Regions from separate parts of the Homo sapiens genome. Here all the other regions are linked to region 2. The links come from fine-mapping of genetic effects on gene expression. A gene starts in region 2. Each other region holds a variant in brackets. All regions are shown on one strand. Distances are from middle to middle.

Region 1 (4,246 bases), 780 kb before region 2:
CTCCCAAAGTGCTGGGATTACAGGCGTGAGCCAGTGCCGGGCCCACATGCTTTTTAAAAAGACATCTTTAAGGCCGGGCACAGTGGCTCACGCCTGTAATCTCAGTACTTTGGGAGGCCGAGGCGGGTGGATCACTTGAGGTCAGGAGTTCAAGACCAGCCTGACCAACATGGTGAAAACCCATGTCTACTAAAGTACAAAAATTAACCAGGCATGGTGGCACACACCTGTAATCCCAGCTACTCAGGAGGCCAAGGTACGAGAATCGCTTGAACCCCAGAGGCAGAGGCTGCAGTGAGCCAAGATCACGCTACTGCACTCCAGCCTGGGTGACAAAGTAAGACTCTGTCTCAAAAAAAAAAAAAAAAAGACATCTTCAAGATGACAATACTGGCTCTTTGTATCCCAGAGAATGTTGTGCCCAGTCCTTAATTTGAATCACCACTGATCCACTAGGTTGGCTCACAATGATGACATATTTTACCTTCCTCCAGAAGGTTAAAAAAAGGCATCATTTTCTTCTGGGCCAACAAGCATTAAGAGTACAGTCAATAGGCAAGTTACAGAGGCCCATGCCCGTAATCCCAGCACTTTGGGAGGCTGAGGCAGGAGGATTGCTTGAGGATAGATGTTCAAGACCAGCTTGGGCAACAGTGATAGCCCATCACTACAAAAAATATAAAAACTAGCCAGGCATGGTGGCATGTGCCTGTAGTCCCACTTACTTAGGAGGTCGAAGCAGGATTGCTTGAGCCCAGGAATTCAAGGTTACAGTGAGCTATGATCACAACACTGTACTCCTCCAGCCTGGGTGACAGAGCGAGATCCTGTCTCTAAAAACAAAAAAAGTCAACAATTTTAAAGGAAAGGGGAGAGGAGGAAGAGAAAGATGAAAGCTATGTTTTATTTTATTGAGATAGGAATGAACCCTCTCCCTCTACCTACAAAAAGCACTGCTTGCCTCACAGACCATCTGGACTATCACAGAGAAGTTCTTGCCCATCCCAAGTGAAGGCATCATACAAACACGGATGCACATGGCTAAAGATGCACATTCAGGTCAGGTGGGCAGGCTGTGGATGGAGGGGCAATGTGTGTCACAGCTTTTGCATTCTTTATTTTTTTAGAGATGGGGGTCTCACTATGTTGACCAGGCTACCCTTGAACTCCTGGGCTCAAGCGATCCTCCTGCCTCGGCCTCCTGAGTAGCTGGGATCACAGGCACCCGCTACCACAACCGGCCTGTCATAGCTTTTGTTAAATACTTAAGAACTAATAAACACCATAATCTAGATCTACCCTTCTACCTCCACCCCTGGCCAAATTTGGAAATTGAAGCATAAGAAGGTAAATAATTGGTTGAAAGCTATAGAATGACCCAGAATTGTAGAGATCTGCCTCAAGTCTCTGGAAATCTAACCCAAATCTCTAAGGTTATTCTTTAAAAAAACAAAACAAAAACAAAAAAACAAGATGTAAAGCCAATCCTAACAACATCTGGATTACACAATAGAGAGAGAACATTTAAATCTACATTAATGTATGGAAAATCTAAACGTGTTCAAATGCATTAAATAAGGAAGGTGAAGAATGGAGAAAATTCTCAGGCAACCTGTGATCACCGCTGGTTACAACATGGAGCTGGGAAGGGGAGTCAAATATTAGGGTCCTGGCCTAGCTTCCCTAGAGGAAAAGTACAAGTGATCCTGGAATAGTCCCATTTCTCAGTTCGTTGGGCTCCTTTCCTTGGGAGGCCCTGGTACCAGGGAAGCTTCCAGCATCCATCAGAACTGACGGGGAATACATTACCTTTTCACTGTCAAGGTGGACAACATCTTTGGCTCCAGGATCTTCCTCCCACAGTGGGGGCCCTTTTGGATCCTTCAAAAAGGCCACTATGGACTGAGGGAAAAAAAAGAGAAGAGAAAATGCATTTTAGCCCTGAAAAGAGGGAGGTGGGGGAATCAGGAACCTGTCCTCTTTCCCTGCCTGGAGACCTGGGCACACCAGCTGCTGAGCTCAGGACTGCATGTGGCATAAGCTTGGAGGGTGTGTTATTTCCGCTGTCCACTGACATCATGGATAAGTGCCCAAAAATGCACCTCCACCACTCCCATCGGGCTTTTTCAATCACAAGACACCTTGCTCACTCCAGCCAGGTAGTCCATGCCTACTATGCATCTTCAAGGACAAAAAAGAGAAAAT[T/C]TGAGACAATGAGTTGGCTTATTCAAACCAGAGACATACTAGTGCTTCTACTAAATCTCATCTCCTCCAAGAAGTCTTTCTGACTAATGGAATAATGGTCTCAGTCTTGTCCAAAGGAGACATTTCCACATTCCTGCAGCCACTAAAACTGTCATCCCATAAGCAGATCATCATACCTACTTATGACCTGCTTGGTATTTCATGATCTAAACTGGTTTTGGAGTGGATTAAATCCTGATTATCCGCCTCTGTATATGAATGAGTGAGGTCCAGGCTGGGAAGCCCCCAGGGCAGGGTGGGCACCAATGTGGCCTCACCCTTGTTGCTATACTTCTCATGCTGGGGCCCCTCTTCTAGACTGCCTGGATTGAAGATCTGACCAAGTTCTTACAGATAAAGGGCTTCGCTGGCCTTTGTTATGTGTACAATGACTCAAATCTCCACTCCCTGTGGGGAAGATGCACAGGGGCAGGGAAGAGTGGCACTGTCCTTCCACCCTCCTCTGTATCCTCTGCCACTCTCACTGGTCCAGGGCAGAAGCAGCATTCCCTTTCCCTTCAGTCACTCAGAGACGGTGCTCAAAGTCTGAGAGCCAGGATCAGGAACCAGACCCCAGCCAGATTCTGTTACTTCTGTCAACTTTGACCACGCTCCAGCGAGCAGATGCTGAACTGAGAGTGTATGTGTGTGTGTGTGTGTGTGTGTGCGTGTGTGTGGCCTGAGATGAGAAAGGGAAGTGCCCTTCTATAATAGTAAGGGTGTGCATTCAGCCCATCCACTGGTCACACACGGAGAGGACCTTATTATTTCTGGAAACTCTATTTGGAAAGAACTACTACGGGAGAATGGGAGACAGCCAAGACTTCATAGGATTTCATTCAGGTAGTGCTTCCTGCCTGTCCAAGTGGAGCTGTGAAACGCCTCCTGGCAAAAGAACAGCCATTTCTGCCACAGCAAAAGGCGGATCCACCCTTTCTCAGTCCCTTGTCAAGGCTTTGCCATGACAACATAAGGAACTATGGAATTGGCAGGGTCTTCCCGACACCCACACTCACCCACAGCTGCAGAGGCACCTGTCCACCAGGCCATGTGAGAAAGATGCTGGTAGGCACCCACCTGCCTGGGGTTCCAGAAATACCTGGTGCAGGGGTTCTTAATCTAGGGTGCACAAGGGACTTCAGGAGTCGGTGAAGCCCCAGACTCATGTGAAAACATTGACTTTGATTTGTATGCACACACGCTTTCAGGGAGAAGGTCTGGAGTTCAGTAGGTGCTCAGTGGGATCAGGACTCCAGAACAAGTTAGGAACTGCTTGCTCTGGGGGGTGTCCTGGCCCCACGCCCAGCCCTCCTCCCCCTTCTCCACCTCAGCATCAAGAAAAAAAGATAGCAGTGGATGGAAAAAGGAGATAAATGGCCTTTTAACGTAACAACTGACATGTTCGTACACACAACCTTGTTTTTCAGGTGAGGATTATTCTCACTTAACTGAAGCTGAATAACCCCACCCATAGGTTCTCTCCAAGTTGATCTAACTGGACAAGACCTCAGGGCAAAAGTCTGCAGGGAGCAGCACCTGGAAGCCCACCCTCAACTGTCCTATTCTGGGTGCTCTGAGTCCCAGGCACTGTCTGACACCACATCTGGCCTTCATAGCTGTAATCCTGGCTCACAGCTACTGGGCCCTGAGGTCATCAGTGAGTCATCTGAATCCAGACTGCCAGGCACCTCTGGCCCTTACCACTTCTATAGTAAGGATTTGGGGAGTATGTGCTAACAAGGAAAGGGCAGCTTAAAGGGGACATTCCCCACTTCGAGTTTCCTATTCTTTGCCAGTGGGGAGATAAGTTCTCACTTAACTGGCCTATGACCTCTCTAGGTGCCGTGGCACAGCGTCTGTGACCAGGCTTCTGCCCAACCATGCGGGTTGACAAAAACCACAGCCAGAACATGGGCCTGCAGGTGATGGGCCCCTCCTGTCGGGGGGTCCTCCATCTCTCTGGAGTCAGGGTCCCAGGAGAAACCCTGAATGGAAAGTTAAT
Region 2 (4,246 bases):
TTTAGTAGAGATGGGGTTTCACCATGTTGGCCAGGCTGGTCTCGAACTGCTGACCTTGTGATCCACCTGCCTCAGCCTCCCAAAGTGCTGGGATTACAGGCATGAGCCACTGAGCCCAGCCTGCACCCTGACTTTTAAAGCCCCATCTCCCACTGGCCTTGTAGGATGCCATATATCTCTGGTCCTGCCAGCAAGCAAGGCCATGGGTGGCAGCAGCAGCAGCACTTGGGAGTCTGGTAGAAATGCAGAATCTCAGACCTACCCCAGGTCCCCTGAATCAGAATCTAAGGTTTATCAAGACGTGCAGGTGATTCATGTGCACATTCAAGTTTGAGAACATTGATCTGATCTGGGGATTCACATGAAGACATTACTGACTTAATATCATCTCCCAGGAAAAAAGCTCCAAGATATTTATTTAAAAAAAGAACTCTTGAAAGAGAAATAATTAGTCCCCAAGAATGAGTGATGGGATTCTAGGCATCTGGCCCCTTAGAGAGCTTTCTAGTTCCCAGAATATACAGGATCCCAACTCTTATAATCACACAAAAAGCTGATCTTGTTTTCCAAGCTGTCATAGAATGATGTTTCAGAGAGAAAAAATAAGAAGGAATAATATAAGAAAATAAGGCAACAAACTAAAAACCTAAAGTAGTAATTTGTACATGTTTTCCTTTCATAAAATATGCAAATAAATGTTTACTACATAGCTAGATGATAGCTAATCACACAAAGAAAAATATATCAGGGATGGGTGTGGTGGCTCACGCCTGTAATCCCAATACTTTGGGAAGCCTAGGTGAGTGGATGGCTTGAGCCCAGGAATTCAAGACCAGTCTAGCAACAGAATGAAATGCCATCTCTAAAAACAAAACAAAACAAAACCCCCCAAATCAGCCAGGCGTGGTGGCATATGTCTGTAATCCCAGCTACTCAGGAGGCTGAGTGGGGAGGATCGCTTGAACTCAAAAAGTTGAGGCTACAGTGAGCCGTGATCAGACCATTGCACTCCAGCCTGGGTGACAGAGTGAGACCCCATCTCTTAAAAATGAAACAAAACAAAACAAAAAAGAAGAAGTGAAAAACACATCAATCTGCTAACAACATTGAGTTCTATTTTTCCATATATAATTTGGTGCCCTATGACATTTCGGAGTCACTATAGACTGTCACCTCTGTTCTATTAGTTGAATTACCTTTTAACTATGAAAAGACTAAAACACTATCTATTTGGGCAAAAGTGTATGAAGTTTGTAAGTAGATTGCCTTTACAATATTATTCTTCATTCAATCTATTTAAAAAAATTTTCCCTGCAGTGCATTCCAAGACTACTTCATCAAATTGTTAATAACCTTAGACTTCAATTACACGTTGGCTTCACTTGGTGAGATTAGAAAAGTTTCATCAGAAACTGAATTAGTAATTCTAGAATCATATCTTGTAAGAGCTTTAGAGAAGATACAATACAAATTCTTTTACCCATGGAGAAAATGAAGCTCAGAGAAGAAATGTGATTTGCTCAAGGTCACACTCACAGTTTGGGGATTATTTGAGGCTTCATCTGAAAAACTCTTATTTCATCTTAGTTGTAAAGAAACCTGAACAAAGCCACAAACATCCTAAACTTCTGGTTTTCATGTTCAACCACAGCCTTTCCACAGGGACAACTTATGAATCAAGATTTTGGCTCAGACTTTTTCCTGAATGGCATCAACTCACCTTATCAACAATCTCCTGGATTTCTGGAGTGGCGGGTTTGGCCTCAGATAAGCCTCCAGGTATCATTTTGGCTGATTGCTTCTTTGCTGGACAGGATGCTGGAACCAAAGTGAACAGGGAAGTGTGGAGACTCGTGTTTTAAAAGAGGCGTTCACTAGCTCCGCCTATAGAATGCTTTATTTTCCACAAACAGCAAAGAGGCATGGGGAAAATGAGTATGCCGCCAGGCAAGTCTTCTTGCTTCCTGGAGAGAATATGCTACATGGAATTTGGAAGAAAGAGGGGTTGGAGGATGAACAAATGGGCAAGTACAGGAGTCATGTCCTAACAAGCATCAAACGTCCCTGCATTCTCTTTGACAATGGTTCCATCCTGTTGCATCATCTGAATTATGAAATCTGAAGCCGCAACTAGAATTTCCAAATGTTTTAAAACTTCTAACACAAAATTTTATTTTTTTTAAAGCAAAACTTACTAATAATGTCAAGGTTAGTTTAGAATTTACTTGACTTTAGAAAGAAAGCAAAAGGATCTATCTGGAGGACCTTGGCTGGATGTGTCTTCTTTACTCTTATTTAAATATCTGGAAATGTTTAACATACGGTAAAACACAAAGAATAAAATAACAAACATCTATATTTCTATCACTCAGAATTAAAACTTTTAACCCTTTTGTCATATTTGCTTGCTGTTTTTTATTTTTGTAGTTATTTTTAGGAAATAAAATATTACAGATATGGAGGAAGCCCCACACCCCACGCAACCTTGCCTTCCAGAAGGCAAAGTACATGGTGAATTAATATCCTTCCAGGCCATTTTTATATGTGTGTCTTTAAAATTAAAATATGTCTTACTTGGTGTGTCTTTAAAATTTCACTTAAATTGTATGCTAAATATATTCTATGTTATGTTCCTTTTTCTATTCAACATGTTTTTGAGCCTTTCTATGTTGATATACACATAGATCAATCCACAGATAGATCAATCCTGTTCATTTCCTTTAACTGTGATATGCTATTTTATGCTAGACCTATCTATTTAGTCTACCTATCTAATTGCTATATTCTAGTTCATATTTTACATACTCATTTCTCTATTGATGACGATTTTCGTTGTTTCTGGTGTTTCATTCTTACAAACAACGTTGCATTTTTTCTCCTTTTTACATGAGTGAGGGCTTCTGCAGACAACTTATCTAGAAGCAAAATGGCCACATTGTGTGAATATTTATGTATATTATTTTATTCAATTTTGGGAATATATAATACATACACAGGATAAAAATGTTTGGAAGGAACCAGGCTTTACAATATAAGGAATTATTCACTCACTTAATTCCTCAGACACCCTTCTACTCTCCAGAGACAATTATTGGCACCAACTTCTTCTGTATCCTTCAGAGACATTCTTTACACATACAAATATAAAAATAATTGGAGGCTGGGCACGGTGACTCACGCCTGTGATCCCAGCACTTTGGGAAGCCGAGGTGGGTGGATCACAAGGTCAAGAGATTGAGACCATCCTGGCCAACATGGTGAAACCCCATCTCTACTAAAAATACAAAAATTAGCTGGGCGTGGTTGCGTGCGCCTGTAGTCCCAGCTGCTCAGGAGGCTGAGGCAGGACAATCGCTTGAACCTGGGAGGCAGAGGTTGCAGTGAGCCAAGATCGCGCCACTGCACTCCAGCCTGGTGACAGAGCAATACTGTGTCTCAAAAAAAAAAAAAAAAAAAAAATTGGCTACACACACACGCACACACACACATAGATACATATTCATCTATATAGGTTTTCTTTTATAAAAATGGTATCCTACATAAATTATTATACTTTTTGTTTTATTCCTAACAATATATTTTGGAGACTGTTCTATATCACAATACAGGGAGGTGCTTGTTTCTTTATAATGATGTTTGGTGGGTGCTTGGCAAACTCTTGGAGCTAAGTGAGTGTCTTACAGGCTAAACTAAGGGGTGCTACACAAGTATCTCTCCATAGAATGCCTTTACCCTGTGGATTAAGAAGAACAGCGAATGTGGATGACAAGGTGCTCCCTCAAGAGGCCACAGGTCATCTGAAGACTTTGGCTCAGCTTTCATAGGCCACTGGTTCTACTCATCTTCATGTGACCTCCCCAAGTCAAGTCCTTTCATATTAAGGCCCCTGACGTTTTTCCAAGCCTGAAGCCCATTTTTAGTTGTCTGCTGACATCCTAGTCCAGGCCATCCTTATTGAATCTCCCCAGTGGTAAGAGATATGGTAAACCACAAGTCTACCCTTCTCTTTCTAGGGTCTATGCCCTGTACTTTCAGCTTTTTCCTATTGATTCTCAATAATTTATTTTAGAAGTAAAAACTTCCCCAAAGCAAATATTGCTTTTGTGTTTTGTATTCCTCCTATAACAATCCTAGTTCTTCTCAAGAGTAGTATGTGTGCCTCTGATTGACAGGGAAAGAGTCGCACACAAGGAAGTGCAAAAGAGAAAAGCACAATTCATATCTCTGTATTAATTGTTTACTTAAG
Region 3 (4,246 bases), 20 kb after region 2:
AATTGCTGCTTTCATGCTACAATGACAGAGTTGAGAAGTTGCAACAAACAACGTATGGCCTGCAAAGTTTTTTCATTTAAAAATGTTCTTTTCAGAGACAGAGTCTCATTCTGTTACCCAGGCTAGAGTGGAGTGGGACAATCATACCTCACTGCAGGCTCCAACTCCTGGACTCAAGCAAGCCTGTCACCTCAGCTTGCTGAGTAGCTGGGATTACAGTGCCAGCCACTGCACCCTGCTGGTCTGCAAGGTTTTACCTGGTACTTTACAGAAAACATTTGCTGACCTCTGAGCTAGCTCACAGTTCAGGCAAAGAAATCGAAGCCCTGAAAGTTTAACTGATTTGTTCAAGCTCAGATGACTACACACAGTGGTAGGTTCTTAATATTATTAATGAAATCTCTTTACAGTCTATGTATTTTTTGGTTATTGCTACTATGTCAGCAGTTTTACTTTCCCTCTGAATCTTTTCTAGCTCCAAAGATATTTCCTAATAGAATTTCCTAGAGAGTACCCACAAATACTTTTGGCAAACACAAGGTATGTTTTGCTTTGCTTCTAATGCACCTTTAAAGGATATTAAGCATTTAGCTGACCTTTCCAACTAAGGCACCTGTAAACTGCTTGAAATGTCTGCATAAATTAGCTTCCAAGTCTGTTAGCATGCTGTTTATTACCGTTTCAGAACTTTACACGCAATTAGGATGTATTGCCACCAAGTGGCCAATGGCACCTCTGTTATGCTTTCTCCACTGGGCTATCACAGAATTATCATAGTTTCACAGGATCTAGTGGTTGGAGGGAATCTTAACTCCAGCCACTTAACAAGGAATTGTTGCTTAAAGAGATCATTATGCTGTCTGGTCAAGTGTTAGAAATAGAAAGAGTTGTTTTTTCAAAGTTAAGCATACATTCTTACTTAGTCACTTTTAAGGCCAGATAGAAAGAAACGCAAACTCACAAATAAGATTTGGTGTTATCCTGAGACTTCAATTGTTATTAATCACTGATAAAACTAACCCTGTTGTCAGGCTATGTAGCAGCTTCCTAACTCAGTTGGTTATTTTCAATTAAGTATCCCTCAGAGGTGTCTTAAAAAAATCTGACATAAAAGCCCTTGCAGCCTGATTATTTCTCTTTTTATTAGAAGAGAAATGGTGCTAACTTTGCTTATAACCTATCAGGACAAGAGCCTGCTCACCTTCACAGCCTTTTTCTTAACCTCATGTAATGGTGTGTTGGTGTCTTTTGCCCATTTTTATATTGAGTTTTGGGGTACTGCCCATCACCTATGACAGATGTTGCAAATATTTTTCTCTCAGTTTGACTTTGCCTTTGGTGCTCTTTTTTGTGATGTGCCAATTTTTTATTTTTACATAGTCAAATTTATCAATAAGTATTTTCTTTTACTGAGTCTGGATTTGGAGTCACAGTTAGAAAGTCTTTCCTCAGGTTAATAATTCACCATTGCTTTCTCCTTGTATTTATATGGTTTAGCTGCTGCTTCTTTTTTTTTTTTTTTTTTTTTTTTGAGACAGAGTCTCGCTCTGTCGCCCAGGCCAGAGTGCAGTGGCATAATCTCGGCTCACTGCAACCTCTGCCTCCTGGGTTCAAGTGATTCTCCGGCCTCAGCCTTCTGAGTAGCTGGGACTACAGGCACGCGCCCCCATGCCCGGCTAATTTTTGT[G/A]TTTTTAGTAGAGATGGGGTTTCAACATATTGGCCAGGCTGGTCTTGAACTCCTGACCTCGTTATCTCCCAAAGTGCTGGGATTACAGGTGTGAGTCACCATGCCTGGCCAGCATCATCTTTTAAGTTTAGATCTCTGATCTATTATGAGGTTATTCTTATTCTTCTTCTTATTTTTTTTTTTTTGAGATAGGGTCTCTCTCTGTCGTCCAGGCTGGAGTGCAGTGGAGCAATGTCGGCTCACTGCAACTTCTGTCTCCTAGGCTCAAGCAATCCTCCCACTTCAGCCTCCTGAATAACTGGGAGTACACATGCGTGCTATCATGCCTGAGTAATTTTTGTATTTTTGTAGAGAGCGGGGGTCTCACTATGTTTCCCAGGATGGTCTGGAACTCCTGAGCTAAAGCGATCAGCCCACCTTGGCCTCCCAAAGTGCTGGGATTACAGGCGTGAGCGACCAAGCCCAGAAGAATTTATTCTTATGTATAGTTTAGAGTGTGGATTCAATTTTATCTTTCTCATAATGGCTATCACGTTGTCTTCCCACCATATATTAAATAGTCATATTTGCCCCAGTGATTTTTTTAGATGCCATATGATTTTTTTTCTACCATATTTTAAATTTACATTTATATTTAGGTTTAATTCTGGACTTTGAATTCATTTACACAGATCTATCTATGTATGTGCCAAAACCAAACTTTCATTATGGAGCTTTTCTTTTTCTTTTTTATTTTATTTTATTTATTTATTTATTTTTGAGACAGAGTCTTGTTCTGTTGCCCAGGCTGGAGTACAATGGCACTCACTGCAACCTCCACCTCCTGGGTTCAAGCAATTCTCCTGCTTCAGCCTCCCAAGTAGCTGGGACTACAGGTGCCCCCCCACCATGCCCGGCTAATTTTTTGTATTTTTAGTAGAGACAGGGTTTCGCCATGTTGGCCAGGCTGGTCTCGAACTCCTGACCTCAGGTGATCCACCCGCCTCAGCCTCTCAAAGTGCTGGGATTACAGGTGTGAGCCCTCACATCTGGCTGGAGATTTTAAAATATATTTTAATGTCTGGTAGTGCTACTTTTCCCTTATAGTTCTTCTTTTTCTTTTTTCTACCCACCTGACGACTGGCCTTATGGTTCTTTTTCAGTTTTTTTTTTTAAAGCTGTTCTTGCACATTTATTTTTTCACATGAACTTTAGTATCAACTTATCTAGTTTCAAAAAATCTTCTTGATATATTTAATTGTGAATCGACTTGGGAAGAACAGACATCTTTTGAATGTGATCCTATTCAAGAACATCTTTCCATTCATTCAAGTCTAGTTTTTGGTATTTTAGGAGTGTTTCAAAATTTTCTTCATACCGATTTTGCACATGTCTTGTTAAATTTATTCCTTAGAATTCATCTTTTTTTTGTTGTTATTGTCAATAGGACTTTCTCCTCTATTTTATTTTCTGATTGGTTACTGTTAGTATTTCTAAAGGCTGTTGATTTCTGTTATGTTAGTTTTACATCCTGCTAACTTTAGAATTTTTTAATTGCTTTGTTAGTTTTACTTTGTTTTTCTAAGATTTTACAAATATTATGTCATCTGTAAATTGCTAGCTTTAGGACTGAGGTGTATATATTTTATTACATTAATAAAAAAATACATTAATTCCTACATTCTTGAGTGCTTTTTTGACAGCATTGCTTCATCAGGTGTAGTGGAATGGTGATTTTTCTAGTCCTGTCATTACTTTTGCTATTTGTGCATGTTGTTATATTTAGTTTTTGACAGTTTTATTGTGGTATATAATTGATGTACAATACACATATTTAAAGCATACAATTTAATTAGTTTTGACATACTTATATAGCTAGATAGGTTATTATATAGTCTGTTACTAAATTCTGTATATTAACTGAATACTTACATAAAGAAGAATTTTCCATCATCAATGATTTGATTACCCTAAAATACAGTTCAAGTAGAGAAAGGAAGGCTAAATGCTTACTTCTTTCTCTTAATTAATCAATGAACAAATAATAACTTATTGCCCTGAAACTTCCAATTGTGAGAATTAAGTTTTTTAAAAATTCTTTTTTTGGGAGGATGGGGTTTAAGAGAGTGGTATTATGAACTAATGAATTTTTATATATTTAAAATGTTTCAGACAACCTACAGAATGGGAGAAAATTTTTGCAAACTATGCATCTGACAAAGGTCTTATATCTAGCATCTATAAGAAACTTAAATCTACGAGAAAAAACAAACAACCTCATTAAAAAGTGAGCAAAGGACATGAGCAGGCACTTTTCAAGAGACATACATGCAGCCAACAAGCATATGAAAAAAAAAGCTCAACATCACTGATCATTAGAGAAATCCAAATCAAAACCACAATGAGATACCATTTCACACCAGTAAGAATGGCTATTATTAAAAAGTCAAAAAATAACAGGTACAGCCACGGTTGTGGAGAAAAAGGAATGCTTATACACTGTTGATGGGAGTGTAAATTAATGCAGCCATTGTGGAAAACAGTGTGGTGATTCCTCAAAGACCTAAAAACAGAACTACC

Direction of the effects. Alleles are on the strand shown, and positions count from the first base shown. SD is a standard deviation of normalised expression in the study named. Not every link is listed here.
As copies of G replace A in region 3, the expression in whole blood of the gene that starts at base 1,831 in region 2 goes down (moderate effect, 0.53 SD a copy in Lepik 2017).

The links.
Region 1: its variant is fine-mapped to the expression of CSTA in unexposed skin (GTEx, PIP 0.98).
Region 3: its variant is fine-mapped to the expression of CSTA in whole blood (Lepik 2017, PIP 0.95).

The regions. Positions count from the first base shown.
Region 1 is chr3:123,104,405-123,108,650 of GRCh38, reverse strand. It overlaps PDIA5 (protein disulfide isomerase family A member 5), which reads right to left. Exons shown (of 17, transcript NM_006810.4): 6 at 1,810-1,902. Among named protein-coding and RNA genes, the nearest start is that of PDIA5, 40 kb to the right of the region's middle. The variant T/C (reference allele first, on the strand shown) is at 2,206.
Region 2 is chr3:122,322,833-122,327,078 of GRCh38, reverse strand. It overlaps CSTA (cystatin A), which reads right to left and starts at 1,831. Exons shown (of 3, transcript NM_005213.4): 1 at 1,721-1,831. The coding sequence starts at 1,786.
Region 3 is chr3:122,302,484-122,306,729 of GRCh38, reverse strand. No RefSeq gene overlaps it. Among named protein-coding and RNA genes, the nearest start is that of CSTA, 21 kb to the left of the region's middle. The variant G/A (reference allele first, on the strand shown) is at 1,688.